Homo sapiens: one gene and its partners. The protein of the gene in region 2 interacts with the protein of the main gene of each other region in a biochemical or structural test. Each region holds a gene or a part of one and is shown on either strand. Other genes may lie near its edges.

Region 1 (4,527 bases), on a different chromosome or scaffold from region 2:
TTTTTTTTTTTTTGAGACAGGGTCCTCACTCTGCTGCCCAGGCTGGAGTGCCGTGCTGCAATCATAACTCACTGCAACCTCAAACTCCTGGGCTCAAGCGATCCTCCTACCTCAGCTTCCCCAGTAGCTAGGACTACAGGCGAAAGCCACCATGCCCAGCCACAGGTACGTCTCTTTAATGGTTAGCAACGTCTTCTGACAAAGTTTTTCTTGAAATTATCATTCTGACTCTAAAGCAGTTCCTCTTCCTTTCTCCCTATCTCTGCAACAGAATTCACTAATTTATTAATATATAACATTCTGGATACTGGACTGGTGGAAAGGCAAATCGAAGATTTTTACTTTTACTCCAAAAGAGTAGCTATATTCTTCTGTAAAATTGGAACTGTGTGAAATAAGTAGGCCACTGGATAGACTGGAATTCTGAGATATCTCTTATAGAGGTTTGTGTTATGGCAGAATTTGACATTATCCTTCCTCGATCCCTGCCTTTTAAGATCTATAGCCCACAGTTTATGAGGAATCCTAAGAAATAAGCAGTCCCTACTTTTATACATACAATATATTTCTTCCTGAACACTATTGTTTAAAGCGAATTGCCATATGGCCAGATCCTAAGTGAACGTGTGTTACTGCCTTCATTAGGTTGGACATCAGCAGAAACTGTCAACTAAGTAGTGAGAAGTCAATGTGTTGGTCATTAAAAAGAACATTAAACAAATGGGCAAAATATCAAGATGCAGAAAGTGGGCACTGCTTATATAGGAGTTCTTCTATCTTAAAATTTGCACTGTAAGGATGAAAAGCTTTTTAAAAACAAATGCGAAGCAAGCTCTTCTAACAGCATCATCCCCAAAGGCTATGTGGTCTAAAAACCCACTAGCCCGAAACAGTTGGTTATATATTATACCTTGAAGTCTGTGTTGTTTACGTGTTCAAAAACCAAGGCGGGGGTTCGTGACTAGGGGAAAAGAACAAAAACAAAAACACACATTAGCAATAGCCCTGACAGCTTTAATGGGGACAATGTTTGCGGATGCTGCGTGGTGAAATTTGGCAGTCCTCGCCTCAGTAGTAAGAAACCCTCTATTGCTACAAGCCCTCCCCGCTCTGATCATCACCGCACTTAGGTCATTTTTGGGATGGATTTCAAACAGAAGACATGGAGCTGAAGTCTCACCAGGCTCTAGGCAGCCCGACAATGCGCCCATCGCCCATCGGCATCGGACCTGAGTTTGCAAAATGGATTAACACATTTCAGTTTCCAGTGCTATCAGTCTCTTAGCCTAGAAGAATAAGAAATAGTCTGTGGGTGGAGGTCTCTTTGAAAGAAAGACCCAAGCTAGTTAAATGGTATATCTGATTAAGCACTTTCAAAGCAGGACTTAATGATGAGGGTTGGGGGAGGGAACAAAAAGAGGCCAGTTGTGCTCCAGGTCAAACACCATCTCAGCTCTGGCGGGCCTTGCTAACACCTACTATACTCACCACAGGGTCTTTTACAATGTCTGCCAGTGTGATGATGTTGGGACCTCCTCTCAAATTCTCCAAAATCTTTATTTCACGCTTAATTTTCTTCTTTTTTACTGGCTGAAAGGGGAAAAGTACATCAGCAAAAAAAAAAAAAAAAAATTTTTTCAGAGTATTTCAACACGTAGTGTAATACATAAATGATAAATGGCTTACTTATGAGCACACCTTGAAGGAAGAAAATGTGTCACATTCGTCTCTGAATCCTTCTCCTAGCACTGTGCCAGGTATTCTGCAGGTACTTACAAATGTTGAATTGAAAGAAAAAAAGATTTCTATTCCAAAGACCAGACACTTCTGCAGAATTAGCATTTCAATCATCAGTCTTGATGTTAATGTTTTAAAACATGTTAAACATGTTAATGTCTTAAAACCTTACAAAGTAGCAATTTAAATCGTTAGTAATACTAAAGTATATCAAACTTTTTATCAATTAGGATGAAACATGGGCCCTTTCCATTTCTTCCTCTAATTAGGGCCAACAACAAGGATGGCCAAAACATCTTTGTGTAGCACAACCCTGAGGGTAAAGGGTGAGTCTTGGAGTCACAATGCCCAATGTGAAACCTACCTTTACTACCTGCTGGCTGTTAATGGCAAACTACATAACCTCTCTAAGCCTTTCATTAAGTGTAAAATGAGTAACAAGAGTACCCATCTCATAAGATTGTTGCAAGAATCAAATGAGGTATTCGAAAGATTTCGGAATATGGCTGAAACATAACATAATAATAACTGTCTAGCCTGATCACCAATGCTCTTTTTTTTTTTTTTTTTTTTTTGAGACAGAGTCTTGCTCTGTCACCCAGGCTGGAGTGCAGTGGTGCAATCTTGGCTCACTGCAACCTCCGCCTCCTGGGTTCACGCCATTCTCTTGCCTCAGCCTCCCGAGTAGCTGGGACTACAGGCACCCGCCACCAGGCCAGGCTAATTTTTGTATTTTTAGTAGAGACGGGGTTTCACCGTGTTAGCCAGGATGGTCTCGATCTCCTGACCTCGTGATCTGCCTGCCTCGGCCTCCCAAAGTGCCAATACTCTTATAAATGAACCCCTCCATTCTAAAGAGTATTCTGCAGAGCATATCTTAAACATTCCTTTGTCCTTACCCATTCTTTCCACATCTGTTCTAGTATGGAATCCTTTTCATTTTTTTCTGAGGAGGGCCTTGGTCCCACTGCACCTCCTTTATAAAGCCTTTTTTTTTTTTTGAGACAGAGTCTTGCTCTGTCGCCCAGGCTGGAGTGTAGTAGCATGATCTCAGCTCACTGCAACTTCCGCCTCCCGGGTTCAAGCAATTCTCCTGCCTCAGCCTCCCGAGTAGCTGGGATTACAGGCGCCAGCCACCATGCCCAGCTAATTTTTGTATTTTTAGTAGAGACAGGGTTTCATCATGTTGGTCAGGATCGTCTCGAACTCCTGACCTCATGATCCGCCTGCCTTGGCCTTCCAAAGTGCTGGGATTATAGGCATGAGCCACTGTGCCTGGGCTTATATTATAAAGCCTTCTCCTGAATAGTCTAAAACAGTGCTGGCCCAAAGGAAATATAATACAAACCACATGTGTAATTTTAAATGTGTTAGTAGCCACATCAAGAAAATTTTAAAAAGGACAAAATTAATGTACTTTATTAATCTAAAATCTTAACATATAAATCAATATAAAAATTATTAATCTATTTTACCTTTTTTTGTATTAAACCCTTGAAATCTAATGTATTTTACTCTTACAGCATATCTCAATTCAGCCCAGCCATATTTCAAGTGCTTAACAGCCTCATGTGGCCTGCGTGCCTGCTGTACTGGACTGTGCAGGTCTTTTCCTAGGGTGTTGGTCACCTCAGACTAGATGCACTGCATATAACTCTTAGAAGTTAAGTACATCTCATCTCTTCATTAACAAGATTGGTGGTTACTAAAGTTTGATGACCAACAATCACCTGGATTTTTTTAATATACAGACTCACAGAACCCACCAAGATTCACTAAATCAAAATCTTGAGAGGGAAACGGGGGATTTATTTTTAGATACTTTCCAGGCTGATGATCCAGGTCCAGAAACTACCAAATAATACTATAAATTCTTTTAACTTTGTCTTAAGCCTCAAGCACATGATAGCAGAAAGCAAGCAGATTTTGGAAACATTGACAGTTCTCAAAACCTGGCTTTGTGGTTGTGCAGTGTTCAGAAAAGCATTTAAATGTTTCTCACTGCTGAAAGGGACTATACTCGCCTGTTAGTGATTTACATACCACAGTTAGAACAGGTCCAATGCAAAGTGGTACCCAATAAACAGAAGCTATTTTACTAATGACTTCCATGTAGTCCATTGAATTCAACCCACGACCTCTTACCCAATACAATATCTACCTAAGAAACAAGATAATATAAGTCTTCTCTTCCTGCTTCAACTATTCAGATCTTTATAAACTGTTATATTATCTGGGAGATCTTTCCACCCTGCAGAGACTAACCCAACAACTTACCTCCTGTTTTCCATTAACCCAACTGCTGGTTTTTTAGTGGAAAAAAAAAGCTTCTGGTTGACAAAACTACTCTACAGAATGCTTCAAATCTATAAACTTAAAAAGCTGGTTTGTGACAGACCAGGCAGCTGACTCAGGCCCGAATTTAATGCGATCAATGCAACTTTTGTCTTATTAAATAGGGGAGATTAAAAATTTTAAATATGGTTTACAAAGGAAATTCATCTATACTTACACCACCTACCCACAGTTACAGTAAAATATACAATACAGTTAGAAAGACTGAGCTGAAAAAAATCTTTCTAAATCACCCTTCATTCAAAATCATCAAGGGCTCACAATTACCTAGAAGAGATAGTCATATAATTTTAAGACTGCAAGGAAATGCAGAGATTATTTTTTCCAGGCCTTCGCCAACTTAATCTCTCTTTCCAAGTTCAACTCCTATGTATGGTCACATAACATCTTTCACATGAAATATTTCTCTCACTTTTCCCTCCTCCTCTTTTCTTA
Region 2 (4,409 bases):
ACAAAAGTTGTCGTAGGCTAAATATTTTAGGCAGTTCAAAGATTTTTATGCCCTAGTTCTTGAGGTGATCAAGTCTAGATTGCTATATAAACATGTTTATAGATTTTCTTAGAATAAAAGATTGGCTTTGTATTTTGTGTTTGCATGGTGTACGTAGAACACAAATACATGGTGTACATAGAACTTCTTAATATTGATTCTTGCAGTTTTGATCCAGTTCTTCCTCCTGAAACGCTTAGAATGTTTCACCCTTGCTTCCTACCCCCTGTAGCCAATTTTCATAGGCATTTTTTTCTTTTTTTCTGCCTTATTTCTTTCATTTAATCTTTTTCTCTGCCTTATTTCTTTCATTTAATCTTTTTCTCTTGTCATATAGCTCAGTTGATCAAGCAAGGGACAGATGAATCCCAAATTCGAGATTGCATTCTAGATTGTGGATGATTTCCCTTGTTTTAAAGTTTTTCTTTCATGCTGCTTGTTTAAAAAGTATTAATTTGGGAATTGTGAGGGGCAGGCCACTTTCTTTGATCACAGAGAGACCTCTCTCTCCAGCCAGCCACTTTGAAAATTTCATCGTCACATGAGGAATTGCACTGCTTATGGGTGACTTAACACAATTCATCACTTCTAGAAAACAGCTCAGCTCAGATGCACAACTGAATGTTTAGAAGCATGTTATTTATAATAGCCTACTGCATACTAAAAACATTTACAACTCATTCTGTCTTGGTAAATAAAAATTGGAAGGACATTTTCCCATAAAATAAAGCCCAGAAGATCTCTAAGGTCAGTGCATGACTGAGAAGGTCAGATCTAAGGAAGGTTCAAGAACATTCATCTAACTTCAAGAAGACAGCATGTGGAGCTGTGTAGGAACTAGGGGTCATCACATCACCCATAGATTCTAGAACAGTGATGGAAAGGCTCTCAAACAGTGACTTATGTCTCTGTGTAACTTACACATTTAAGTTTCTGTTTCTTTATAGATAGAAAAACATTATTTTGGCCAATTAACTATCTTTTTTCAAGATTATTATTTGTAATATAAAATAAGCTATAATTTTGAGTTCAGTGTTTAAATTGAAATATGTAATGTCAACTCTTCTTTTTCTTTCTTTCAGTGGTCTGGGGAGAATGTAATCATTCCTTCCACAACTGCTGCATGTCCCTGTGGGTGAAACAGAACAATCGCTGCCCTCTCTGCCAGCAGGACTGGGTGGTCCAAAGAATCGGCAAATGAGAGTGGTTAGAAGGCTTCTTAGCGCAGTTGTTCAGAGCCCTGGTGGATCTTGTAATCCAGTGCCCTACAAAGGCTAGAACACTACAGGGGATGAATTCTTCAAATAGGAGCCGATGGATCTGTGGTCCTTTGGGACTCATCAAAGCCTTGGTTTAGCATTTTGTCAGTTTTATCTTCAGAAATTCTCTGCGATTAAGAAGATAATTTATTAAAGGTGGTCCTTCCTACCTCTGTGGTGTGTGTCGCGCACACAGCTTAGAAGTGCTATAAAAAAGGAAAGAGCTCCAAATTGAATCACCTTTATAATTTACCCATTTCTATACAACAGGCAGTGGAAGCAGTTTCAGAGAACTTTTTGCATGCTTATGGTTGATCAGTTAAAAAAGAATGTTACAGTAACAAATAAAGTGCAGTTTAAAACCCAACTCTTACTCTTAATTTGTTCCTAATACGTATTTTTGGCAGGGAGAGGGAACGGTCCATGAAATCTTTATGTGATATAAGGATTTTAAGTTTGGGCCAGTGAACAGGGTAAATAAAATTTAACTTTTGAGCATATGGAATTTTGATTGCCTTTAAAGTTACTATTCTGTATCATTGATTCATCAAGAAAACCTAGATCTGCACTCACCTCACTGTTCAATCATTGAGTGGTAAAGGACAGAAGTATTTTCTAGTTCTGGTCAGATGATATAATTTTTTTTTTTTTTTTTTGTGGGGGTGAAGTCTTGCTCTGCCACCCAGGCTGGAGTGCAGTGGCATGATGTCAACTCACTGCAACCTCCGCCTCCCGGGTTCAAGTGATTCTCCTGCCTCAGCCTCCCGAGTAGCTGGGATTACAGGTGTGTGCCACCACACCCGGCTAATTTTTGTATTTTTAGTAGAGACGGGATTTCCCCATGTTGGCCAGGCTGGTCTCAAACTCCTGACCTCAGGTGATTCGCCCACCTCAGCCTCCCAAAGTGCTGGGATTACAGGTGTGGGCCACTGCACCTGGCCCAGATGATATAATTTAACTGTGTTTTAGGTAACATGTTAATGAGGGAAAATGTTTACCAGTGTAGCATTGGATCAAAAAGTTTATCACACAGTGTTTTAATAAATGGTTTATTCTGCTTACCTTATTTGAATTGTCATTATAATTTTATATGCAACCTTAATTTGTCAAGTAAATACTTTCATTTAATTTGAAAGAATTCATATTCATTTGCTCTTTCATTTGACAATAATAAAATTTAAGGTTTATTACCTGGAAAGAGTGCAAGAAAATACTAAACAACTTTATCAAACTGATTCACACTGAGGGGAGGTTATTTTGTAACAAATAATGGACCACAAGTTCATTTTGTATTCTTCTGTAGTAGAGGCTACTGATATGAATTTAAGAAAAAACCTTAGAATCTTAACTTTTCACATCTGCAGATGCAGTGTGCCATTCTGAATTTTTCAATCTAAGGGATGTGGATACATAGAATGTTTAAAAAGATAACAATTAGAATGAAAAATTAAAATTATGTATGCTTTTATATGGGTTACTTTTTATTGATCACATTTCTCTGGAAATTTTTCTTTATATTTTTTCACAGTTGTCTTTCTAGCTACTGAAAAAATTATACAAATATCTTTGGCCATTTAAATGTTTATCATTGTGCAGTGAACTGTTTTAGTAACTTTCTGTTTGACCTTTTTAGAAGGTTGCATCCTTAAAATGTGAACCAGATACATGGCTTTGCATTGAAGAGGAAAGCAGTAGAATGTCAGGTTACTTTAGGCAGTGTGACAGTATATAAATGAAATGTGGAGGATGGTGGTAACAATTTGATTTTCCACACAGCAAAACCACAGTCCCGCCACCTAACAAAGCCCTGTTTATGCCACACACCAGCATCTGAGGGAAGAGGAGGCACTGTGACAAAGCAGCGCTGATGCTGCTCAGCCTGCGATGATTACAGCTCATCTGCACAGCCATCTGAAAGTTTAATACATACTCATCAGAGGGAACATGCCGGGACAATTTTGGGTTCCAATACAAAAGTTAAGCATCAAACAGGTTTTTCTTTCCATTTGATTAAATGTGCTGATTTTATTTTACTGTTGCATTAGAAACAAACAAGTTATCTTTCGCTATTTAATTTTCCCTCTATGCAAATTGTGTTATTACAGCTGACCGCTATCAGTAAATCTTAATTCTGTCAGTCCCATTGCTTCCTTTTTTATAAAAATACTGTGTCCCCCTTTACTGTCATGAAGTGAAATTCATAAATATATTTCCTACACATATAATTTAAATGTATGTAATTGTTATATGACAGAACTAAAAAGAACTTGTAATTCAGTTGTATTTCAATATAGAAATGCTTGGACATGGATGGGCACGTTGGCTCACGCTGTAATCCAAGCACTTTGGGAGGCCAAGGTGGGTGGATTGCCTGAGGTCAGGTGTTCGAGACCAGCCTAGCCAACACGGTGAAGTCCTGTCTCTAACAAAAATTGGCCGGGTGTGGTAGCAGGTGCCTGTAATCCCAGCTACTCGGGAGGCTGAGGCAGTAGAATCGCTTGAACCCACGAGGCAGAGATTGCAGTGAGCCGAGATCGCACCACTGCACTCCAGCCTGGGCAATGAGCGAAACTCTGTCTCAAAAAAAAAAAAAGAAATACGAAAAAGCAGCACTTTGCTGCTTTTTAAGTTATTGCCATGGAGCCAGGCATGGTGGTGCACACACTAGTCTCAGCTACTCTGAAGGCTGAGGCGGGAGGATTGCTTGAGCCTAGAAGTTTGAGGCTGCAGTATACAGATCATGCCTGTAAATAGCCACCACACTTCAACCTGGGCAACATGGCAAGACCCTGTCTCCAAAATAAATAAATAAGTAAAAGTTATTGCCACGGGTAGTTTGGAGTAATGAACGTTTTATGCTCTGCAATGAAAAGGAGAAAATTTCAGTGTTTAGTAAGCCCTTGTTTGTATTTATTGTTTTTTCGAGACAGAGTTTCACTCTTGTTGCCCAGGCTGGAATGCAGTGGCGCAATCTTGGCTCACTGCAACCTCCACCTCCCGGGTTCAAGAGATTCTCCTGCCTCAGCCTCCTGAGTAGCTGGGATTACAGGCATGCACCACCATGCCCAGCTAATTTTTTGTATTTAGTAGAGACAGGGTTTCACCCTATTG
Region 3 (4,527 bases), on a different chromosome or scaffold from region 2:
TGCAGGTGGAGAGGGGCCAGGCCACCCCATTCCTCACTGCAGGAGGTTGCAGCCCATGCCGCTAACGCCTCCTCAGGGAGAAATGGATCCATCATCGCTCCCAGCAGTGCCTCTTCTCTCACCACAGCTATAGCCTGTGAGAAATCCCTATGTTCAGGCTCCACCCACACTTGCTGGACCAGAATTTCTGGGGCTGGGCCCAAGTCCAGGTGATTGTGGTGGGCAGATGAGGGTGACAGGCAGGAGCACCCTGTGGGGGGAAACTTGTGCCTGTTGCCTGCTATGAAGCACCAGTGTGTTCCACCTCTTCCGTGTATTCATTCACTGCACTCTCCCTCTCTGCTGCTCTGGGCCGGGCGCCCAGCACATCTTCCTACTCAGAACCAGTAACCTGGGCTCCGGTTCCCCCTTCCTTGCCAATTGTTTCCTTCCCTGCCTGTGTAGCCTCAGGGTGCCTTTTAAACTACCACTGTGTGATGGAAGTATGAGGTGCAAGGATCTTTTGGGCTTGATGTGGGGGCTGATAGGGAGCCCCCAAGCCACTGTGAGTTGAAGTACCACGTAAGGAGGTTCTGGAGGGTGCTGGAGCTGGGCCAGAGGAAGCAGCCTGGCGAAGGAGGCAGGGCTCAGCTGGATGGTGCTCGGGCTGCAGAAGAGAAGGTGCCTGACAGGTGTGGAGGCGGCTTTTGTGCCACTGGATGGGAGGCCGGGCTGAGGCGGGTAGAGTGGCACTTCATGTGTCAGAGTGGAGGAATGTTGGCGAGGCTGGTGTTCTGGCAGGAGGGCATTGCTGGGTGGTTTGGGTTATAGCGCCTGCCAGGCATTCACTGAGATGTTGGAGGCAATGGGAAATGTCAGGCTGGTGCACAGTTGAAAAACAGGTGACAGACAGTTCTGAAGACATCTCAGGCAGGACCCTGAAGTCGTAAAGTTGTGCTTTCTGGGTGAAATGGCACTTGCTGCATTGACTGTTTATACAACAATAACCCCACATATTTGCAAGGGGTCCTGTTGCCCACAACATGGCTTCCCTTTCCTTTTCTGCACTCTGGGTCTGTTTTGCAGCTGAGGAAACAGGCTCAGTGAAGGTTTCCCGTCCCCACCCCCCCACTCCCACCCCAGTCCCAGACTGGATGGTTCTCTTTGCTGTGTGCCCATGTTGAGGTGGAGTCCTTCTGAAATCACACTTATAGCACTGGGTAGAAAACTGGATATGCGTTTGTGTCTGGTTTGTTCCCAGTCCCCAGTTTTATTCATCTTTAGCTTCTCAGCATCCGGTGCATAATCAGTGCTTAATGAATCTTGATTGGAAGGTATCAGGTGTAGAGCACCTCAGGATAGCTCCTGCCACATGTCTGCCCTATGCAGGGTGCTGAGGGATTTAAACAGCCATGGTGACCAACCCAAAGAGGAGGTGGTACGTCTGCAGAAGCATGGTTCCCCCTGTCCTATTCAGGGGGGTTCACTGAGGTGGGGGCTTGTCTTGGTCTGGGGCATGGGGAGAGGCAACAACCTTGCAGAGGGGACCGCCATGGCAGCTCCATGCCTCCTTAACCACTCCAAGCACAGTTTAGTCCTCACTGTCCAATTTTGTCATTAGCATTTTTGGCACTTGGTTTAATTTGAGGGCATCAGGAGGGATCTTAATATGTGGTGCTTTCCCCTATTTGACACCCCTTTATGCTTTGTCAATCAACAGGAGCTTGAAGAAATCCGCAAATGTGGGATGAAAAACTTCCGTAACATCCAGGTTGATGAAGCTAATTTATTGACTTGGCAAGGGCTTATTGTTCCTGTGAGTATTGAACACTTCCACTTCCTACCAGATTATTCTTTAAGGTGATGTGTGTGCTGTTGGGCTTGTTTTTCTGCTCCTTAGTAGGCTCTTAGTCTAGGCAGCCAGCAGATGCACAGAAGTGGCTGTCGCTCTAGGGTGATAAGGTAGGGAGTGTAGCCTTGGGTCCTGAGTAGAGTCACATCTTGGCACTCGTTTTGTCAAATTCAGGGAGTCCTGAGCTTTGCAGATCTGTAGACACAGAGAAAAGGAGTGTGTCTGTGCTCCTGCTCTTTCCTGACTTCCCTGCGCCTGGCCTGATGGATCAGCAGGACCTTCTTCTCTGAGCTCCTCAGGAGGGGACAAGCATTCCCCTCTAGATATTTTGCTTTCTCTCTTGGTTTTGCATTCATGTCTCTAACCCTTTGGATACCTGTATTTCGGGCTTTATTCCTGGTCCCCTCCAACCTGTGCCTTCCATTTGTCTCAAGTCCCTTTTCCTAATTGCCCACATGTTCCCCTCACCCCATGTCTTTTCTGGGGCTTATGCCTCCAGTGTCTGCCCCCACAGCCCAGCTCCCCCATCTCACAGTCTTCTGCCTTCTGATGGGCTCAAGGCCCTCCTAACGATGGCTTTCCTTAGCACCCTCTTAGTGCCTACTCTTTTCTGCATCCTTTGATCCCCTCCCCTTCAAGAGGCTTGTCTTATAATTAACTCCAGTTTGCAATCCCCCTTCCTCTCACTCTCCTGAAACCACGTCACACCCAGCCCACAGGCTGCCCCCACTGTTGTCACACCTCTAGCTCGGCAGTGCTGGCATCATGGCCCTTGCTTGCCTCCTGAGCTTTTGGAGCACGGGCAGCATTCCAGCCCCCAGTCCTGTGACCAGCCTGCCACTCGCTCCTGTTCTGCCACTCCTTCCTCCTCACTCTTAAACATGACTCTTGTTGGTCTCCTGCTGTTCTCCTGTTCTGTTTTGTCTCGGGACCCTACTACTTTCGGCATCATAGATGATTATGCCAGACATGAAGGATTCCCACACCTGTCTCCATTCCTGCCTTCTCCCCGGAAGCTGCACCATCTGTCCACCAGGCGGCCTCACTTGGTCATTGTGTAGCCTTCAGCTACCTCAGCTCACACCCTTGTCCTGCGTGAGTGCCCTCCTTTCCTGTTCTTCCTCATCCACTCACCTTCTCTGTTCCTTTTCATTCCCACTTTGCACATCTGAGCCTCTGGCCCTTGCCCTGTGCCTGCCGCTGTCCTGTATATAATTTGTTCTCATGGATGGATTGGCTGCTTTGCCAAAGCAGAGCATGGAGCATGCTTCCTCCTGTAGATGCTTCTTCCTGATGCTGGTTATAAGGTCATGAGCATGGAGCATGCTTCCTCCTGTAGATGCTTCCTCCTGTAGATGATTTCTCCCTGTAGATGCTTTCTTCCTGATGCTGGTTATAAGGTGAGCATGGAGCATGCTTCCTCCTGTAGATGCTTTCTTCTTGATGCTGGTTATAAGGTGAGCATGGAGCATGCTCCCTCCTGTAGATGCTTTCTTCTTGATGCTGGTTATAAGGTCATGCTTTTTTTTTTTTAAGTCCCTGAATTTGATCAGCAGTTATTGGATTTGTAGTTTATTTCCATAATCATTTGGATAACTAAGGAAAGATATGCTTTGTAATGATTTAGTATGCTCAGAATGTTTAAATCTGGGAGCTTCCAGTCTGATTTTGAAGATGAGTCCTTTAGATTTCTTTAGGCTTGATGGTGTTAGGGCTCAGGGCAAAGGGTGTGGGTGGCAGAGACACCTCTGCATGGGAGGGGTTGGCCTGTGAGTGCAGCCCTTGCCTACTCTAGGGACCTGAAGATGGCCGGGACCATCTGACCTCTTGTCCCTTTTCTAATTGAGATTGTGTAGTCTACTGAGCAAAGAAATGAACAGTTAATCTGTGGCTCTTTGGAAAATGATAAAAATGAATGGAATGGTTTTAAGTGGTAAGGCTTGGGCAGTCTGGCCCTGAGAATTTAGTGGCCTGAGAGCCTGCTAGCCAGCTCCACGGGTAGATTGCTGCTGGGCATGCTCTGCCCCAACTCATGCAAAGGCCTCCCTCTGGTTTCACGCTGGCAGGGGCTATGGAGCAGTGGGCTAAGATCTTACTAGGGCAAAGGTGGAGGCTGGCTGGTAGAATCCAAGTGTGCTTGGGCTGAGGCTCTGGGGAGCTATCCAGGCCAAAGTTTCACCTTGGAGACGGTAAGCAACAGCCAGGGCTGCTCTTGTCCCTGTGTATACCACTTCTTCTCGGTCCTCTCCCTTGCTTTCTTCCAGGGCCCCTGGGTTTGTATGAGGAATGTTTCAATGAAGTCTTCTTCCTTCTCCAGAGCAGTTAAGGCATTGTTGACATCTGACATCCCCAGGGTCCACACTTGTACCCCAACCTGGGCTTTAGGTCTTCCTGCATTGGACGGGCTGGGCCAGCATGGGAATCTACTATACAAACTCACCTGAGGTCTGCCCAGTTGGGGTAAAAGTAGAGCCAGGCCGATGAAGGCATGGCAGCCCAGCCCTGGTCCTTAGTGGAGAGTGGTGCTGTCCTTGGGTAGCCACCTAGCGATTGCCCTGGTCGTAGTGCACAGAGGAGGGCAGGTGGGAGGGAAGGCTGGGGAGGTACTTCCTAGAGACTTCATTGTTGCCAACGCAACTCTGGTCTATTCCCTTTAAACATTTGTTTTTCTGTAATTTTTTTTCATCTAAGATGCT
Region 4 (3,799 bases), on a different chromosome or scaffold from region 2:
GGGTTTCACCATGTTGGCCAGGCTGGTCTCGAACTCCTGACCTTGTGATCCGCCCGCCTCAGCCTCCCAAAGTGCTGGGATTACAGGTGTGAGGCACCGCGCTTGGCTTTTTTTTTTTTTTTTTGGAAACAGAGTTTCGCTCTTGTTGCCCAGGCTGGAGTGCAGTGGCGCGATCTCCGCACACTGCAACCTCCCCATCCCGGGTTCAAGGGATTCTTCTGCCTCAGCCTTCCGAGTAGCTGGGATTACAGGCATGCACCACCACGCCTGGCTAATATTGTATTTTTAGTAGAGACGGGGTTTCTCCATGTTGGTCTGGCTGGTCTTGAACTCCTGACCTCAGGTGATCCACCCGCCTTAGCCTCCCAAAGTGCTGGGATTACAGGCGTGAGCCACCACACCTGGCCTCTTGCTCTTAAGAATTCTACAGCCTGACTGGGCATGGTGGTTCACGCCTGTAATCCCAGCACTTTGGGAGGCTGAGGTGAACAAATTGCTTGAGCCTAGGAGTGCAAGACCAGCTTGGGCAACATAGTGAGACCCTATCTCTTAAAATAAAAAAGTAGCCAGACCTGGTGGCATGCCCGTAATCCCAGCTACTTGGCAGGCTGAGATGGGATCACCTGAGCCCAGGAATTGCAGGCGGCAGTGAACTGAGATTGTGCCACTGCACTCCAGCCTGGGTGACACAAGAGACCTTATTTCAAAAAAAGAAAAAAAGAATCCTCCAGTCTGTTGGCAGAGTTGGCGGGGCACCCACCTGCATCACAATCAGACCGTGGAGACTGGACTTTGGGGTGTTGAGGTGCCTTGGGACTCCTGAGTGCCCTGACCCTGTACCCCTCCCTCCACTCCAGAGGGGACCCCATATGCTGGAGGTCTGTTCCGCATGAAACTCCTGCTGGGGAAGGACTTCCCTGCCTCCCCACCCAAGGGCTACTTCCTGACCAAGATCTTCCACCCGAACGTGGGCGCCAATGGCGAGATCTGCGTCAACGTGCTCAAGAGGGACTGGACGGCTGAGCTGGGCATCCGACACGTACTGCTGGTGAGTTCTGGGCTGGGGCTGGGCCTCCTGCCTCCTGCCTCTGGAGGTCTGCTGGTGTCTGAGCCATAGCGCTTTGTTTAGTTTTTCTGAATCAACTCTGAAGTGGTTGAAGGTTTCCACATAAAAATCCATGTTGCTAGCTTTCCTGGAAAGACAAACAGTGCCAGACCCAGGACACCCAAGTACTGTTGAGAAGTGCCCAGGAGCACCTTACTATGCAACGAGTGGTGAGTTTGTATTGTAGGATGGTTTTTCTCTTCTCCCTTTTTTTTAAAAAACAAGGATAGGGTAGGCCAGGTGTGGTGGATCACTTGAGCTCAGGAGTTCGAGACCAGCCTGGCCAACATGGTGAAACCCTGTCTCTACTAAAAATGCAAAAATTAGCCGGGCATGGTGGCACATGCCTGTAATCCCAGCTACTTGGGAGGCTGAGGCAGGAGAATCGCTTGAGCCTGGGAGGCAGAGGTTGCAGTGAGCCGAGATCGCGCCACTGCACTCCAGCCTGGGTGACAGAGTGAGACTCTATCTCAAAAAAAAAAAAAAAATAAGATAAAAAATAAAACAGGAATGGGGTCTCATTTGTTGCCCAGGCTGGTGTCAAACTCCTGAACTCAAGTGATCCTCCCACCTCGGCCTCCCAAAGTGCTGGGCTTATAGGAGCCAGCCACTGCGCCTACCCTGTAGGACAGTTTTCTGACAGGTGGAGGTCAAGGGTCTAGTTAGAAGCTCTTTCTTTCTTTTCTTTCTTCTTTCTTTCCTTTTTCTTTCTTCCCTTTCTTTCCTTTCTTTCTTTTTGTTTTAAAGATACTGGCTCTTTGTTGCCCAGGCTGGAGTGCAGTGGCGCAGTCATAGCTCACTGTAGCCTTGAACTCCTGGGCTCAGGTGATCTTCCTGCCTCAGCTTCCTGAATGGCTGGTATTACACGCATGCACCACCATACCCAGCTAGTTTTTATATTTTTATGGTTTGCAGAGATGGGGTCTCATTAGAGGCTTTTTTGCTAAAGCTGAGCTTACATGCCGTAAAACTCAGTTCCAAAGTATACAGTTCAGTGGTTTTTTAATAGCGATAGGGTTCATAAACCAGTGTTTCTCAGCCAGAGGTGATTTTGCCCCCCAAGGGGTATTATGCATTGTCAGGAGACCAGAAAGGGTTGTCACAACTCGGGGGTGCCACTAGCATCTAGTGGGTGGAGGCCAAGGGTGCTGCCCAAATCCTGCAGCGTACGAGATGGCTCCATGACACAGAATGACCTGGCTGCGGTGTTGCTGAGGTGGAGGCGTCCTGGTCTAGGCTGGTGCTCCAGGCTGCTTACAGCCTGCTGCCTCCCAACCCTTCCCGCAAGCTGAAAAAAAAAAAAGTTAACCAAATTTCTAATGAGTCCCTGGGGCACATGGCAGAGAGGGTGGGGAATTGGGGTTTCCTGCCATGGGGAGGGAGAGGATTGAGCTCCAAGGTAAACAGACCCCAAACCCTTCCCTCCCACATGTACCGCCTCCCTTCCCCTGGGGTGTCATTGGAGGCTGCTGGGGACATTGGCACCGAGCTCCAGGCCTACTTGCTGCTAGGTCAGCATCTGGGCCTGTCAGGGGCTCAGCCAGCAAGAAGAGCAGCCAGACCTGCAGTTTGGGTGCAGTGATGAGAATTAGGGTGGGAACCTGTGTCCTGGTCACCATCAGTGATATCTGCTGAGCATCTGCTGAGCCAGGTACTGTGTATGTGTCATAGTGGCCCCAGGGAGCAAACTGCTGTGGCCAGTTTGCCCAGACCCACTTCAGAGGATCCAGCTGGGGCTGCTGGAGGCCTGGCTGCAGGTCACACCTCTGCACTCCAATTTACCCCTCAGGACGGGCTGTGAAGGGGGTTGAGAGGAATCTCTGGACCACCCTCGAAGTGCACCTCAGCCAGCAGTCCTGGTGTCTTGCCCTCTTGTGTGTGGTCCAACCCAGCTAGAGTCTTAGGCTGTGAACTTCGGATGTCTGATAAAAGACAGAGGTCAGGATTTATGCTGTATCTGGAAAGATGGGGAGCTTTAGAGTCCAACACGCAGGTGTGATTTCCTCAAATCCTGAGGCCCTGGGGAAGTCTCTTCTCTCTGTCCAGGCTGCAGGCCTCACTCGTTGAACCAGAGGGCCTCTAAGGTCATGCTGAACTGCATGGAGGCAAATTCAAAACCATAATAGGACTCAAGTCTGGGGCTCAGGCAAGTAATGGACTCCTGAGAGGGGGCCTTGGCGTTTCCCCCGTTACCCAGCAAGTTCCACGGAGGACCAGGGACATTTTAAACCATTGGGCCTATGGCATCGTGTCCTTTTGGGAACATCTGCTGTGAGGCAGGTCACATGAAGGTGGCCTCTGAGGGAGACAGGAGCAAAGATGAGGGAGGATGCAGCATAGGTGGGGCCTGGATCTGCAGCTGAGTTGGGAGCAGAAGGAACAGCCAGTGCGGAGGCCACCCTCTTGTGGAGGCCTGGGGGTCCCTGTAGGTTGCCCGACCCACTGTGACCCTGAGCCTCTTCCCACAGACCATCAAGTGCCTGCTGATCCACCCTAACCCCGAGTCTGCACTCAACGAGGAGGCGGGCCGCCTGCTCTTGGAGAACTACGAGGAGTATGCGGCTCGGGCCCGTCTGCTCACAGAGATCCACGGGGGCGCCGGCGGGCCCAGCGGCAGGGCCGAAGCCGGTCGGGCCCTGGCCAGTGGCACTGAAGCTTCCTCCACCGACCCTGGGGCCCCAGGGGGCCCGGGAG
Region 5 (4,527 bases), on a different chromosome or scaffold from region 2:
TATCAGAGGTAACAATTATGGATAAAGCCTGATATTTTATTTACAGATCAAAGCCACAGCACAATAATTCAACAAATACAAAAGTAATTTTATCTCCAGAAGGAAGCTTGGCAATAAATTATACTTTTTTCAAAGTATGGAATGATCATTTAATCCTTTTAAAATTATTTAAAATTTTTTTTTTACTTTTTAAGATTATTGGGAAAATGCTAATCTTCTCTGTATCATCCCAATTTGAGCATATGTGCTGCGGAAGTGAGCACTGGAATGATCATTTCCATGAGAGTATATGGTGTGCCTTTACAGCTGATAGACAGTAATGACCAGGACTCTCAGGTACCAGCTTCAGAAACAGGGCTTCATCAGACCTCTGAATCCTGGTGTGCCTTCCCTGAGCATGGGCCCCCCACCTAAGGAGTGATTGATACTCAGAATTTTGCATTAATCTTTTATCCTCAAGCTTTTTCTTTTGAACTTTAAAAAAATAAAAAAAAAAACCCAGTTACGGCTGGGCGTGGTGGCTCACGCCTGTAATCCCAGCACTTTGGGAGGCCGAGGCGGGCGGATCACGAGGTCAGGAGATCGAGACCATCCTGGTTAACACGGTGAAACCCCGTCTCTACTAAAAATTCAAAAAACAAAATTAGCCGGGCGTAGGTGGTGCATGCCTTGTAGTCCCAGCTACTCAGGAGGCTGAGGCAGGAGAATGGCGTAAAACCGGAGAGGTGGAGCTTACAGTGAGCCGAGATCGTGCCACTGCACTCCAGCCTGGGAGACAGAGAGAGACTCCGTCTCAAAAAAAAAAAAAAAAACCCAGTTATTAAAATGTCATATGCTGGGAGCTCCCATTGTTGTTAACCTGCATCAGCAGTGTTTCAGAATGTCGGTGCCCGTGAGCTGCCTGGGTTGGAAGAACAACATTGTTCATGAGGCGTGTGCCCTTGGGCGTGTCTTCTCTGTGCCTTGGTTTCCTCCTGTATAAGACAGGGAAACAGGGATGCTCTCTTCACGGGTGGTTATAGGCATTAAGTGAATTTAATGGCACAGCACCTAGGATTGTGCCTGACATACACATAATAAGCTCTAAGCTTCAGTTACTCCTGTTGTCATGTTGTCATTTTGTTGCCATTGTCATTTTCTTTCTTTCTTTCTTTTTTTTTTTTTGAGACAGGGCCTCACACTATTCCCAGGCTGGAGTACAGGGGCGCCATCACAGCTCACTGCAGCCTTGAACTTCTGGACTCAAGCAGTCCTCCACCTTTGGGAGTACAGGCGTGCACCACTATGCCTGGCTAATTTTTAATTTTTAGTAGAGACAGGGTATCACTGTGTTGCCCAGGCTGGTCTCAAACTCCTGGACCCAAGCTATCTTCCCACCTTGCCTCGGCCTCCCAGAATGCTGAGATTACAGGCATGAGCCACCATACCCAGCCACCATTGTCATTTTCTGAATATTAAATTGACAAATGTTCTTTGTGTGTTGTTTTAAACATGCTCTTCCTCAGCCTAAAACTTCCATGTCAAGTATTACAACAAATAGATAAACATAACACAAGACGTTATAATTGAATATGTATATAACCTTGGAGGTGGAAATGCCTTCCTCAGCAAGAGAAAACTGAGAAGCCACAGAGGAAAAGATGGGTTTAATAAAAAGTAGAGCTCCTGCATGGCACACACCGAGAGGACTAGTTGGCAGCGTGCAGGGCACCTGTGGCTGCTCCTCACTAACCACTGTGTGTTTGTCTTTTTCAGTTTATTGAGAGAACATTCAATTGATGGCACTGGCTGGGCTCCCACAAGAACATTAAAGGTAGAGTCTGTGCCTTGATCTTGATCATAAGTTGTCCCTGTGGTCCTCTCCCTGCAGTAGCCAGCCTCCCGAGAAAGCAGCACATGTCCTTGCCTGTCACATCCACACCAGTGGCCGGACACACCCTGCCTCCTCTTCTCCCTGCTGCCTAGGCTACTTAGCCAGTCACTGACCTCGGTCAGTTTGGGCCGGATGAGCATCCTTGTTGACTTTGCCAGGCACCATTCTAGAACCAGAGATAGGAGCCCAAACTGCAGGCTTCACAGCCAAACCACCCGCCACATAGGAAACCTCATGGCCATCATTCATTCAACAGGGATGTCTTGAGCTTTTCTGGCCACTAGGTGTTGGAGGAGGAGCAGCAAATTGATGTGCAAACCACTCCCTATGGCCAGAGAAGACTGTCAGGTGTTGGGTACCTAACATCAGGCAGGGACCCTAGGGGAACAGCACAGGAAGGGGCTTTTGGCCCTGGCCCTGCATAAGGGAACACTGCAGACTGCATGCAGTCCTGACCCAGCTCCTCCGAGCTGTAGTCTCTGCCACCATGGGCAGCCCACCCAGCCTTTTCTTAGCCTCTCCCCACGCTCTAGAAATGTCCTGCCCTCTCAGAACTTTCCCTCTGCAGGTCGTGCCTCTACCTGGAAGGCGGCCCTCTCCTCCAGCCCTCTCCCTGGCAGACTCCTGCTCCCCTGGGGCTCAGATGGCTGTCATTGCCTCTGGAGCCTCTCCTCCCAGGGTGGGTGCTCTGGGGAACACGTCTCATGAACAGTGCTGGCCTGCTGACCTGCCCATCTGTACATCCCCCTTCCTCAGGCTGAGGGCTCACCTTCACCCACACTCCAACCCTAGGCCTGGCTCACATCGGAAGGTCAGGGATGGGTGGGTGGATGGATTGATGGACTAGAGAAAACAGAGAAAGGCAAATAAAATTACCAACTAGCAAAAAGTAGGGGAGGAGCATGAGAACAGGCCTAAAAAGGACGAAACTCTTGAGTTGATGAAGAGGAAAATGGAGAATGAATTTGTGATTCACAGATGGCAGGTCAGTACAGATAGAACAACTCTGGCTTTCAGTTTTATTTAATGAAAATCTCTGATCCTTGAATTGTGAATCTTCTATGATTCTTTAAATAACTAATGCAAAATCATTAAGAAAACTTAATAGGATGAGGGGTAATTAACTTATCTACGACCGCAAGAGGCAGTAGATGTAAAAACAACAGACTTTATTTTGAAGGTGACTTTTTAGAAGTCAGAACCATATTTGGTGGTAACAAGTAAGAGGTGATTTAAGGTGGAGCCCCTATGCAGACACTGGCCTGCGGGCCCTGTCGTGCAGGATTGGGCTTGTCAGGTCTGACTGGGAGGGTGTCTGATGCTATCTTTGATTTTATATTCACTACCTGAGACTGCTCATATCTTTGAATTTTCCAGAGTTTGTTGTTACACTTGAAGAGAAGTTATTTTAATTTTCTATCTTGAGAAAAACAAACCATGCTAAAGACAGGTTTTGATACAGTGCAAAGCATATTTCTTGATCATGGGTTTAAAAGACTAGGTGCACTTTGGCTTAAAACTTGTTTTCTGTTTTCTTTTTTATTTCAGGATGTCGTTTGGGGATTAAACTCTTTGTTTACTGTAAGTACAGTGATCAAAATCCCAAGTTATTCTCAATTTCCTTGTTGCTGGTTTTAGACATTGCGTTAAGACATGGTTTTAACACAAAACCATGTTAAAAAATGAAACATGGACTGGGCACAGTGGCTCACGCCTGTAATCCTAGCACTTTGGGTGGATCCCCACTTGAGTCCAGGAGGCCCAAACCCCATCTCTACAAAAAATAGAAAAATTAGTTGGGCATAGTGGCACATGTCTGTAGTCCCAGCTGCTTGGAAGGCTGAGGTGGGAGAATTGCTTGAGCCCAGGAGGCAGAGGTTGCAGTGAGCTGAGATTGCACCACTGTACTCCAGCCTGGGCGACAGAGACTCTGCCTCAAAAAACAGATACACACAAAAACCCCCCAAAAACATGCTGGCTGGGCATGGTGGCTCACACCTGTAATCCTAGCACGTTGGGAGACTGAGGCAGGTGGATCACTTGAGCCCATGAATTCAAGACCAGCCTGGGCAACATAGCAAGACCTGTCTCTAAAAAAAAATAATAAATTAAAAAATAGCCCACCGTGCAAACAGTTACATAGTTACCCCTTTTTTCTATTGCTCTTTTATGAGTCAGAAGTAGAACAGTGAGGTGGGGAATGAGGGGACTTTGGAGTGACATGTGGGGAGGTTGTCTGGGGCAGGGGCCACAGCAGTCTCACTTCTGCCCTGCTGAGGTGGCTGACCCCGGTTTCTAGGGGATGAGGCTGGTTCCACTTCCCTTAGCCCCTTCCAGCAGGGTGGCTGTTACTCTGGGGTCACTTGGCCCAGTCCACTTCTGTGCCTGTGGCTACACTAGCCAGCCCAGGGAGTGGCCCTGTCACCTCCCAGGTGTTCTGGTTGGGGTGGATGATTTTGTGGTTACCCAGCCTTGAGGGCTTTTCATGAGTCCAGAACCTCAGAGTTGTTGTCTTTTTGTCAGTGATGAGCTGCTGAAGTTTGCTGTTCTCAGGAAATAGCATTTCTCAGACAATGGCCCTAGGGCAGGAAGAGGCTAAATGGACTCAGCCAAAAGCTGTTGGTTGGATTTTTTTTATACGATATTATACGTTC
Region 6 (4,527 bases), on a different chromosome or scaffold from region 2:
CTTATTCTGACAGATTTTTTAGCAGTTTACTTAATTTGCTGTTATTTTGAGAAAACATTTACCTTTTTTCATTTTTTAAATATATATTTCAGGTGATGGCTATTCCTTGCTGAACTTTTTCAGCAACCTTTTAATATAATGACTAGCAGTTTTCTGCTTTTACAAACAGAAGCATGTGATTTTCAGAACCATTTAAATATTAACCTGATTAACCACAACTGCTGGGTTTTGCTTTGGTAGCAGTACTCACTGAAATATGTTTTCAGTTAAAAAGGTTAGTTCTCACTGTTGGTTGGGTAAATTTCAAGAAGGAGTCAAAGATTATAAAAATCCACCCAAAGTACGGGTATTGTCTTGTACATAAGTAAGCACATAATTTAGATGCCAGCTTTAAATAGTTAACTATATGCTTACTGTGGAGTGCACCAATGAAACAACTCATTTTGTTCTTTTGGCTTCTCAATACTTCTTTGTGACAAAGCATCACTGTATAAGATAAATAGTAGCTTATTTTGTGAGTATGGTTGCTCTATGTAGCAAGCAGTTGTGACCTAAAGCAACCCATAAATTACAGATTTAGTGGGAGAACTGGACAGTTAACAACGTCACTTTTGCTTTGGACTACTACTTAGGTCCCTTAAAGTGGTGCCAGTGCCACAGAACTGAAGATTCCTGACTGTAGGGAATATACCATCTAATTTTGAGTTTCAATAGAGTAACTTTGATTTTAGTGAGTTGTTGGGAAATCCTTTAGATCATTAGTTATGCAGCAAAATTGCTTGGCTTTAATAATCATATGTACTGGCTTATTCTTTCTGAAGGTAAGCTACTTCGGAAGCACAACTATTGACTAAAAACTAAACCTTCGAAAGAAATGACAGCATTGCTAGTTTTTTGTGTGCGTGGGTTTTTTTGGGGAGGGGGGCGTGGGGTACTGTATTAAGGTTAGTTTCCAACAAGAATTGATGTAATTAGAAGAAATTGACTTCCTTACCTATTGCCTCTGATATTTACTTGCTTAAATTTTTTTTTATTGGAAATCCAGAAAAAGTGGATTTAGAGAACAACACTAACTCCCACCTAATCTATGACAGAGATGTAGAAGAGAGTACCTGTGAAAAATGTGAAAGTATCTGAAAAATGTAACCTTTGGCAGCCTGAGCATAGTCAACCAGAAAAACTATCTGAATTAAAATAATTGGTCCATAGGTACTATTTTATTTGGTCCATAAGGATTATTTTTTCAACTTTTTTTTCAAGTGTATTATTATGTCATTTCCCACGTAGGTTACTGATACCTGAAGACTTTTTCCACCTTTAACCTTACTCGTTGAGGAGCTTTGTAGTCTAATAAAAGAGAAATATAAGTAAATGTTAGATATATGGGTGGATAATGGTAACTATGTGCTTAAAGAGGTATAAAAGAAGGGTAGGGAGCAGATAAGACAAAGGAAGGGCTATATTATAAGGAAGAATATTCCAAGTAGGGAAGAGAAAAAGATATGTTATCCATATAATATTTTATGTGCAGTAGAGAACATGTTCTATAGAAGAGACAGAAGATGAAACTAGATGGGCACCCAGATCATAAAGCACCGTATGTACTTAGGAGTTGGAATTATCTTAAAAACTATCATAGATTTCAAGCAGGGGAGTAACATTTTTAAAAGACCACTTTATCATTAGGATGGAGGGATAATCATTAGTAAGCTATTGCCATAATCTAGGCTGAAGATAACATCATGAACTAAGATGGTAGTGACAGTGGGCATAAAGGAGAAGCTAATTCAAGAAATTTTAAAGATCTTACTTGATAACTATCTTGATTCTGAGATAAGAGAGGAAGAAGTTGATGATGAGATCCTGGTTTATGGCTTTCAGTTATGGCTTGCTATTAATAAACAGGAAAAAAGGGATTGAGACAAGTTTCAGTTTTGGACGCATGACATGAGATATCCAAGTAGAGATATCCAAGTAGAAATATCAGTAGGCATTTGAATATATGCCCTGGAATGAATAACTGACCAGAGATATATTTTGCAACTCAAATTTTTATGGGTCAGCAGTTAAGAGTAGAAAATCAACCTATAAGAATACCAGCATTTTTAGCTGGGTGTAGTGGCACATGCCTGTAATTCCAGCTTCTTTGGAGGCTGAGGCCCGAGAATTTACTTGAACCTGGGAGGTGGAGGTTGCAGTGAGCCGAGATCACACCACTGCACTCCAGCCTGGGCGACAGCACCACTTTAAAAAAAAAAAAAAAAGAATACCAACGTTTTATTGCCACAGAAGAGCTGAGGCACTGTGAGGGAGCAACTTTGCACTGATGAGAGCAAAAGAAGTAGAAGGTTTCTGAAAAAATCTAACATAAATTCTGGACTTGTACGATTTGAGTCGATTTGCTGATCACAGTGTTCCTTATTCTTTGGGGATTTTGTTTCTTTTTGGTGTAGTTTGCTGCTGATTCATAATAGAATTTAAATATCATAGGGTCTCAATTTTTTATATTGCCTAGTTTCATTATCTCTGAACCTCGTAGTTCTTCCTCTTTTGGCATGGCAGAACTTTAGTGTTAAATTGTAACATTGAAATATTTTGCCTTCTTTATAAAGTTCTTTTTTCGAACAAACGAAACGAAATTTGGCTTTGCCTAAATCCCATCAGCAGATTGCCTTTATTCAGAAGCAGTCATAGACAGCATTTGATTTTATGAAAATTGAAATGAAAGCTTACAAAGAACTTCTGGAATTAGGTTATTAAAACTTCAATGTTTGGGGCCGGGCATGGTGGCTCACGACTGTAATCCCAACACTTTGGGAGGCCAAGGTGGGTGGATCACTGGAACTCAGCAGTTTGAGACCAGCCTCTCAACTAAAAAGACAACAAAAACTCCGTCTCTACTAAAAAGACAAAAAAAATTAGCCAACTGTGGTGGTTCACTCCTGTAGTTCCAGCTACTCGGGAGGGTGAGGTGGGAGAATCACTTGATCCCAGGAGGCAGAGGGTTGCAGTGAGCCAAGATCGTGCCACTGCACTCCAGTCTGGGCGACAGAGCAAGACCCTGTCTCAAAAAAAACAAAAACAACTTTAGTGTTTGGGATTACCTTTAAATTGTTAATTTTACACAGAAAAAACATATCTTGTATAGTATTGGATCAGGTGAAAGTATATGCTATTTGAAGCATCTATTCAAAATTAATATAACTATTTAATAAAGACATGTTAATCTAATAAACTCAGGTCACATTCTAAGTGACCTGAGTGTTTTTCTAGTTCCATATTTTGTAGAAAATATGAAAAAGGACTGGGCACGGTGGCTGATACCTGTAATCCCAGCACTTTGGGAGGCTGAGGCAGGCGGATCACCTGGGGTCAGGAGTTAAGAGTTCAGCCAACATGGTGAAGCCCCATCTCTACTAAAAATAAAAAATTAGCTGGGCACGTTGGTGCACACCTGTAATCCAAGCTACTGAGGCAGCTGAAGCAGGAGAATCTCTTGAACCTGGGGAGGCGGCGCTTGCAGTGAGCTGAGGTTGCACCATTTTACTCGAGCTTGGGCAACAAACAGCAAGATGATATTCTGCGTCTTGTTTGTCCCCCTTCCCGTTCCCATTCCCCCCGCCCTCCACCCCTACAAAAAAAAAGGGGGAAGACTTGGGAGATGGAGAAGGACTCACTTTAAATAAGCTCTGGCTGGGTACAGTAGCTCACACCTATAATCAGCACATTTTGGGAGGCCGAGATGGGTGGATCACAAGGTCAGGAGGCCGCAAGACTAGCCTGGCCAACATGGTGAAACTCAGTCTCTACTAAAAATACAAAAATTAGCTGGGTGTGGTGGTGCATATGTGTAATCCCAGCTACTTGGGAGGCTGAGGCAGGAGAGTTGCTTGAACCCAGGAGGCAGAGGTCGCAGTGAGCTGAGATCGTGCCACTGCGCTTAAGCCTGAGCGACAGAGTGAGACTCCGTCTCAAATAAATAAAAGCTCTTCCATTTACTAGTTGTATATTTCTTTGAACCTGATTCTTCATTAATAAATTGACCTTTCTTCTTTGAACTCGTGTCCCTTGTTCATATTTCATGATACCTATAACATTTCATTGCAGTTACTTTACATGTCTATCAGTGTAAGCTCATCAAGATAAAAAAAATTGTTCTTTGGATCCCTTAACACACATACAGTATATAGCAAGGGGTTAGATTAATTGAATTAATGTTTATTTATTTTACAGAAGGGTAGGAATTAGATGAGCTGTGTTAGTGTCAGGCCTGTTTTTTATGTGCCTGACATCCAGAATGGGCATAGTGAAAGGCTCATATATAGCTGTATATACAAAGCCTTTCTAATAGAGGGGAGTCAGTGTTGGTAAAAACCCAGTTCATGTAAGTTGTAAAACATGTCTTCGGATTGGTTCTTTGCATACCCAGAAGCAGTTAGGCATTCCACATTTTAACTTTAAATTCCTGAGTAGGTCAGTATCTTTGATCATTAAGTGGTCTTCAAAAGACTTGTGTTTGAATCTTGG
Region 7 (4,527 bases), on a different chromosome or scaffold from region 2:
ATAGAAACTGTGGATGGAGGTAGTGCCACTTGAAAACTGAGCTTTGGAGAGAGAAAAAAAGATTTTTCCCAAGATCATGTGGGAAGTGAGTGGTGGCACCCAGACTTGAACTTCAAAGCCTTGCTGCTTTTACCCAGCATAGTTAAGTCAAAGTCTGAAATCTGTTTCCTTATTGCTTTTTCTTTTTCTTTTTTTTTTTAAATGCGGTCTTGCTCTGTCACCCAGGCTGGAGTGCAGAGGCCCAATCATAGTTTACTGCAGCCTCGAACTCCTGGGTTCAGGCGACCCTCCTGCCTCAGCCTCCCAAGTAATTGGAATTACAGGCATGAATCAGCCTGCTTGGTCCGTTATTGCTTAACTGTAACATGGACCAAAGAAGCAGCTAACCCTGTTAGTTAATTCTTACTAGGAAGAGAAACCGCACCAGCTATTTAAAAAAAAAAAAAAAAAAAGCAAAACAAAAATGAAAATACCAAGGTATACTGGAAAATAACATTGAGCTTAGAAGGAGACCTGAGTTTGTACCTGGCTCAGTCACCCAGCTCATTTATCACTTTCTTAGGAAGGCCTTTCCCTGTCACACCCTCCTTCTTGTTTGTCTCTATTAGAGCACTGAACTCATTGCCATAATTACCTTATTGCAGTGATTCTAAGGTGGACATCTTTCACATTTTAACTTTTCTAAAGTGTGGATGCATTTTACAATTGATGGTGTTTTAAAATAAATTGGCAGCATTTTTTCTTAATTATTGGTACTTAAAATAAGGATGTGCTGTACAGTTGATGACATCTTAGATTTGATTAAGTGCATATTTATTTTTGTGTGTTCCCACAAAAATGTTTACATCATTCTCATGGTTTTAAATATCAGATATATGCAATGATTTTCCAATTTCTATCCTTTTTTAAGGTCCACCCCTGTATGTTGAACCACATTGTTTCTTCATATCACAAGGATTACAGATTCAACATATCTACTCTCCAAATCAGTTTGTCTTCTATTGTTCTCTATCTCAGTGAATGGCATCCACATTCGTACATTTGTGGAACTAAAACATGAGATGATCGCCCACCTGGGTTTGAATCCCAGTTCCGCCCTATAGTAGTTACTCAAGCATGCAGTGAAGTATGTCACCTTAACTATTCACTTGTAAAATGGGGAACATAATAACACCTATCTCTGAGGATTGTTAGAATGACTAAGACATTGAATAAATGTTAGCTGTCCCTAATCTTCATCATACATATCTATGACTTCTCTCCTTCCTCTGCACATGTAATTCATCAACTCCTGTGATAGATAGGCCCTTCAGAGTATCTCACATCTACCACTTCTATCTTGTTGCCACTTCTCCAATCTAAGCCCCCATTTTTCTTGCCTATGCAGCAACTAATATTGTAGCTTCTCCTCTTTCCCATGTCTAATCCAGTCACAACCATCCATTAAATCAGAACATGCCACTTCTTAAGACCTCCCTCACCCCCTACCTAATGCATTTGGTATAAAACACCACATCATTAATGTGGTCTGTATGGTTGTCTGTTTCCTGCCTGGCTTCTGCCCACATTTCCAGCCTCATCCTCTGCCACTCTGCCTCCCAGTATCACTCTTTTCCTCCAAAAGTAACTCCTACTCATCCTTTAGATTTCAGCTTAAATGTCACTTCCTCAGAGATGATTATTGATCTTCCAAACTAAATTAAGTTCTTCAGTTATAGTCCTTTATATTGAATGTATGCCTTTCTTCTTTGGGATGATCAGTTTCTCCCAAACTGTGGCTAAAGAAGTGAAGTAACTTCCACAAGGCCAAAGAGTGAGATCTATTAGAACTGGAATTCTCTCTGTTAGAGGAAAAAAAAAAATCCAAAAAAGAGAAAAGAAGAAAAATGGAAAGAACTGGAATTACAACCCAGGGGCGGGGTGAACTCTAAAGCTGTGTCCTTTCTGTGATCTTTGCTGCCTTGAGGGCAGGAAACAGGGTATGAATCAATGTTCTAAGTTTCAAAACATGGCCTGACTGCTGCTCGTTTATTTCCCATTTCAAGTTGTCCTTAAATGAGCTGGGTGCAGTGGCTCATGCCTGTAATTCAATACTTTGGGAGGCCGAGGCAGGTGGATCACTTGAGCACAGGAGTTGGAGAACAACCTGTTCAACATGGCGAGACCCCATCTCTACAAATAAAATTAGCCGGGTGTGCTGGCACATGCCTGTAGTGCCAGCTACTCGGGGTAGGAGTGGGGGCCTGAGGTGGGAGGATCGCTTAGGCCCAGGAGGTTGAGGCTGCAGTGAGCTTTCGTGCCACTGCACTCCATCCTGGGCGACAAAGTGAGATCCTGTCTCAAAAAAAAAAAAAAAGTTATCCTGAAGTATTATTCTTTCTGAGCCTTCATGCTCCCTCAATAGATTGTAACCTGTTAAAATAGTACCTGTTTTCTGATATATTATCAACCTAGCATTTACATAAATTATCTTACATACAGTAGGTACTCATTAAATAGTTTTTCTCTTAGGGATGTTAAAGAAAAACAGTATTTTTTTTCCATTTAATCTTTTCAAGGTCTGAAGCTGTCTCATGGAGGAATTGAGTACCTTATTCTTTCTACCAGTCAATGACAGAGTACAATTTATGTTTTTATATTTTGAATAGAACTGCTTTAAATGTTTTTAAAGCTAATAGTTTGCATCTTAATGGATCATTACCCTTGTTTCATTGGGAAAAGAAGGAATTAACCTTACATATTTTTGATTTCCTTCAGGAATTGAGTGATCTACAGCGCGATCCACCTGCTCACTGTTCAGCTGGACCTGTGGGAGATGACTGTAAGCCTTGCTCTATTTCTGGGATTATGCTACCTTTAAAAATATAGGTTTGAACATTTGTTAATGACTCCAAAACTCCTTTGTTTGTTTCAGTGTTCCACTGGCAAGCCACTATTATGGGGCCTGTAAGTATGATTCATATCTATGAAATTAACCCCCTCAGCCATACTTCATTCTTGCCATTTCACCTTTGATCAGATGTTTGTGATGAAGGTTGAATATTCTTGTACTTTGAATCACCTAGGAAGCAAAATATTATTAAGGATTTACAATGATTTTCCAAAGCATTGGTGGCAAATATTTCCTGGGATCACTATTATGTTTTCCTTTGCTGAATCCTAGATCATTACACATAATGGAGTGCCACAGCTCGCAACCAGGCTGTGTGTTTATCTTTTTTTTTTTTTTTTTTAAGTCACAGAGAGTTAGTTGTAATTAACCATAATCATTCTCACATCCACAGTTTTGGTAGGTTAGAAATTAGTCTAATGAAGCCAATAATTGAATTCCTACAAGTAACAAGTGTCAGTTTGCCATAAGTTTCATCACTGTTCTTTTTTGTGAAAGAGAATCAATAAAATATTACAATGGGTCTGTCTTTACCTCCTTATAAATTTGCTGCTTTTAATTTTGTTGCATTGTCCTAAACACAAAATTATCTGCTGTTTGATAATTGGCTACTCTCAATACTTATTACTTTTGTTAAAATTATTTCTTTCAATACTTTAGAGGCAGTTACAAGACTTGAAACAGGCTTTTTCTTTCTATGAGCAAAAAATCTGATTGCATAAGAATGAGCACTGACAGCTCAAATCTACTTTCTGGGTGAGAGTACATAAGTAACATGTTTCCATGAACACCATTCTCTTCTCCCTGCCCTGAAAGAGCTTTATCTAGTGAGTTACAGAGTTTTTAATCATACGACCTTGTGTTTAACTTTAAAAAACACCAAAACTACTGAATTTCAAAGCAGTACTCTGGGCAGTTGTCTCAAATTATTGTTTTATTAAGTTTGTTTTTCTAAAAAGGCAAAATACAATGTATTTATATAACAACTTTCAATAAGAATCCATTTATTTCTGTTTGTTTTTAATTAGTTACTAAGAACCTTCAAAATACTCTCATTTAAAGGCCCACCCTTACCTTTTGAATTATGGCCTTTCACAAATATTTTTTAGGTGAATCACATGTAACAAATGGTTATAATCATGTTATTCATAACTCCCTTACTTTAGTAATGTAAATATTTACAGTACTCTGGACCATATCTGTCATTGTAATTTATCTTCATTTTCTATATTTCTTACAATTTTTGATAAACTAGAATTGTTTAAACAATATATATAGTAAGAATTATTATACAGGAAAATCCTCTAGCATATATGTGGAAACTTAACGAGAAAGTAATGAGTCTTGGTGTTATTACCAGAATGCTAATATAACATGATATATTTAATTAAATATGAAAGAATTAAAATAGAATTGTAGGTATAGTTTGCTAGCATTTTCTTTTTTTAAAATTTTTTTGCTTGTAATGTTATATTTTCTAATGGCTATAAAGAAACATGGTCAAATTTAAATTTCTCTAGTAAAGTTGATTCCCAATTTGATAGTAGCATGAATATATAATTTTGTTTTGGATTTTTTTGGGTTCTCTACATTATTTTATAAATAATTACTAAACGAAGATTTGGCACATAAATTGT

What was found.
Region 1: of the proteins of RNF7 (region 2) and CSNK2A1, one has a biochemical effect on the other in vitro, tested with the Homo sapiens proteins (2 studies listed by BioGRID).
Region 3: the proteins of RNF7 (region 2) and UBE2L3 form a complex in vitro, tested with the Homo sapiens proteins (2 studies listed by BioGRID).
Region 4: the proteins of RNF7 (region 2) and UBE2S form a complex in vitro, tested with the Homo sapiens proteins (3 studies listed by BioGRID).
Region 5: the proteins of RNF7 (region 2) and UBE2F form a complex in vitro, tested with the Homo sapiens proteins (10 studies listed by BioGRID, with this or other methods).
Region 6: the proteins of RNF7 (region 2) and UBE2D3 form a complex in vitro, tested with the Homo sapiens proteins (5 studies listed by BioGRID).
Region 7: the proteins of RNF7 (region 2) and UBE2D1 form a complex in vitro, tested with the Homo sapiens proteins (11 studies listed by BioGRID).

Annotation. Positions count from the first base shown.
Region 1 is NC_000020.11:498,345-502,871, forward strand, and holds part of CSNK2A1 (casein kinase II subunit alpha), read right to left. Parts: intron 1,591-4,527; coding exon 1,489-1,590; intron 962-1,488; coding exon 911-961; intron 1-910. UniProt on the Homo sapiens protein: Catalytic subunit of a constitutively active serine/threonine-protein kinase complex that phosphorylates a large number of substrates containing acidic residues C-terminal to the phosphorylated serine or threonine.
Region 2 is NC_000003.12:141,744,038-141,748,446, forward strand, and holds the end of RNF7 (RING-box protein 2), read left to right. Parts: intron 1-1,121; coding exon 1,122-1,240; 3' UTR 1,241-3,523; downstream 3,524-4,409. UniProt on the Homo sapiens protein: Catalytic component of multiple cullin-5-RING E3 ubiquitin-protein ligase complexes (ECS complexes), which mediate the ubiquitination and subsequent proteasomal degradation of target proteins.
Region 3 is NC_000022.11:21,591,162-21,595,688, forward strand, and holds part of UBE2L3 (ubiquitin-conjugating enzyme E2 L3), read left to right. Parts: intron 1-1,699; coding exon 1,700-1,795; intron 1,796-4,527. UniProt on the Homo sapiens protein: Ubiquitin-conjugating enzyme E2 that specifically acts with HECT-type and RBR family E3 ubiquitin-protein ligases.
Region 4 is NC_000019.10:55,401,537-55,405,335, reverse strand, and holds part of UBE2S (ubiquitin-conjugating enzyme E2 S), read left to right. Parts: intron 1-857; coding exon 858-1,048; intron 1,049-1,188; coding exon of another isoform or gene 1,189-1,335; exon of another isoform or gene 1,336-1,373; intron 1,374-1,993; exon of another isoform or gene 1,994-2,204; coding exon of another isoform or gene 2,205-2,393; intron 2,394-2,678; exon of another isoform or gene 2,679-2,746; intron 2,747-3,573; coding exon 3,574-3,799. Other genes in the region: RPL28 (large ribosomal subunit protein eL28), read right to left, coding at 2,205-2,393. UniProt on the Homo sapiens protein: Accepts ubiquitin from the E1 complex and catalyzes its covalent attachment to other proteins. Catalyzes 'Lys-11'-linked polyubiquitination.
Region 5 is NC_000002.12:238,028,801-238,033,327, forward strand, and holds part of UBE2F (NEDD8-conjugating enzyme UBE2F), read left to right. Parts: intron 1-1,755; coding exon 1,756-1,813; intron 1,814-3,421; coding exon 3,422-3,454; intron 3,455-4,527. UniProt on the Homo sapiens protein: Accepts the ubiquitin-like protein NEDD8 from the UBA3-NAE1 E1 complex and catalyzes its covalent attachment to other proteins. Together with the E3 ubiquitin ligase RNF7/RBX2, specifically neddylates cullin-5 (CUL5).
Region 6 is NC_000004.12:102,803,233-102,807,759, reverse strand, and holds part of UBE2D3 (ubiquitin-conjugating enzyme E2 D3), read left to right. Parts: intron 1-4,527. UniProt on the Homo sapiens protein: Accepts ubiquitin from the E1 complex and catalyzes its covalent attachment to other proteins. In vitro catalyzes 'Lys-11'-, as well as 'Lys-48'-linked polyubiquitination.
Region 7 is NC_000010.11:58,358,581-58,363,107, forward strand, and holds part of UBE2D1 (ubiquitin-conjugating enzyme E2 D1), read left to right. Parts: intron 1-2,757; coding exon 2,758-2,821; intron 2,822-2,914; coding exon 2,915-2,946; intron 2,947-4,527.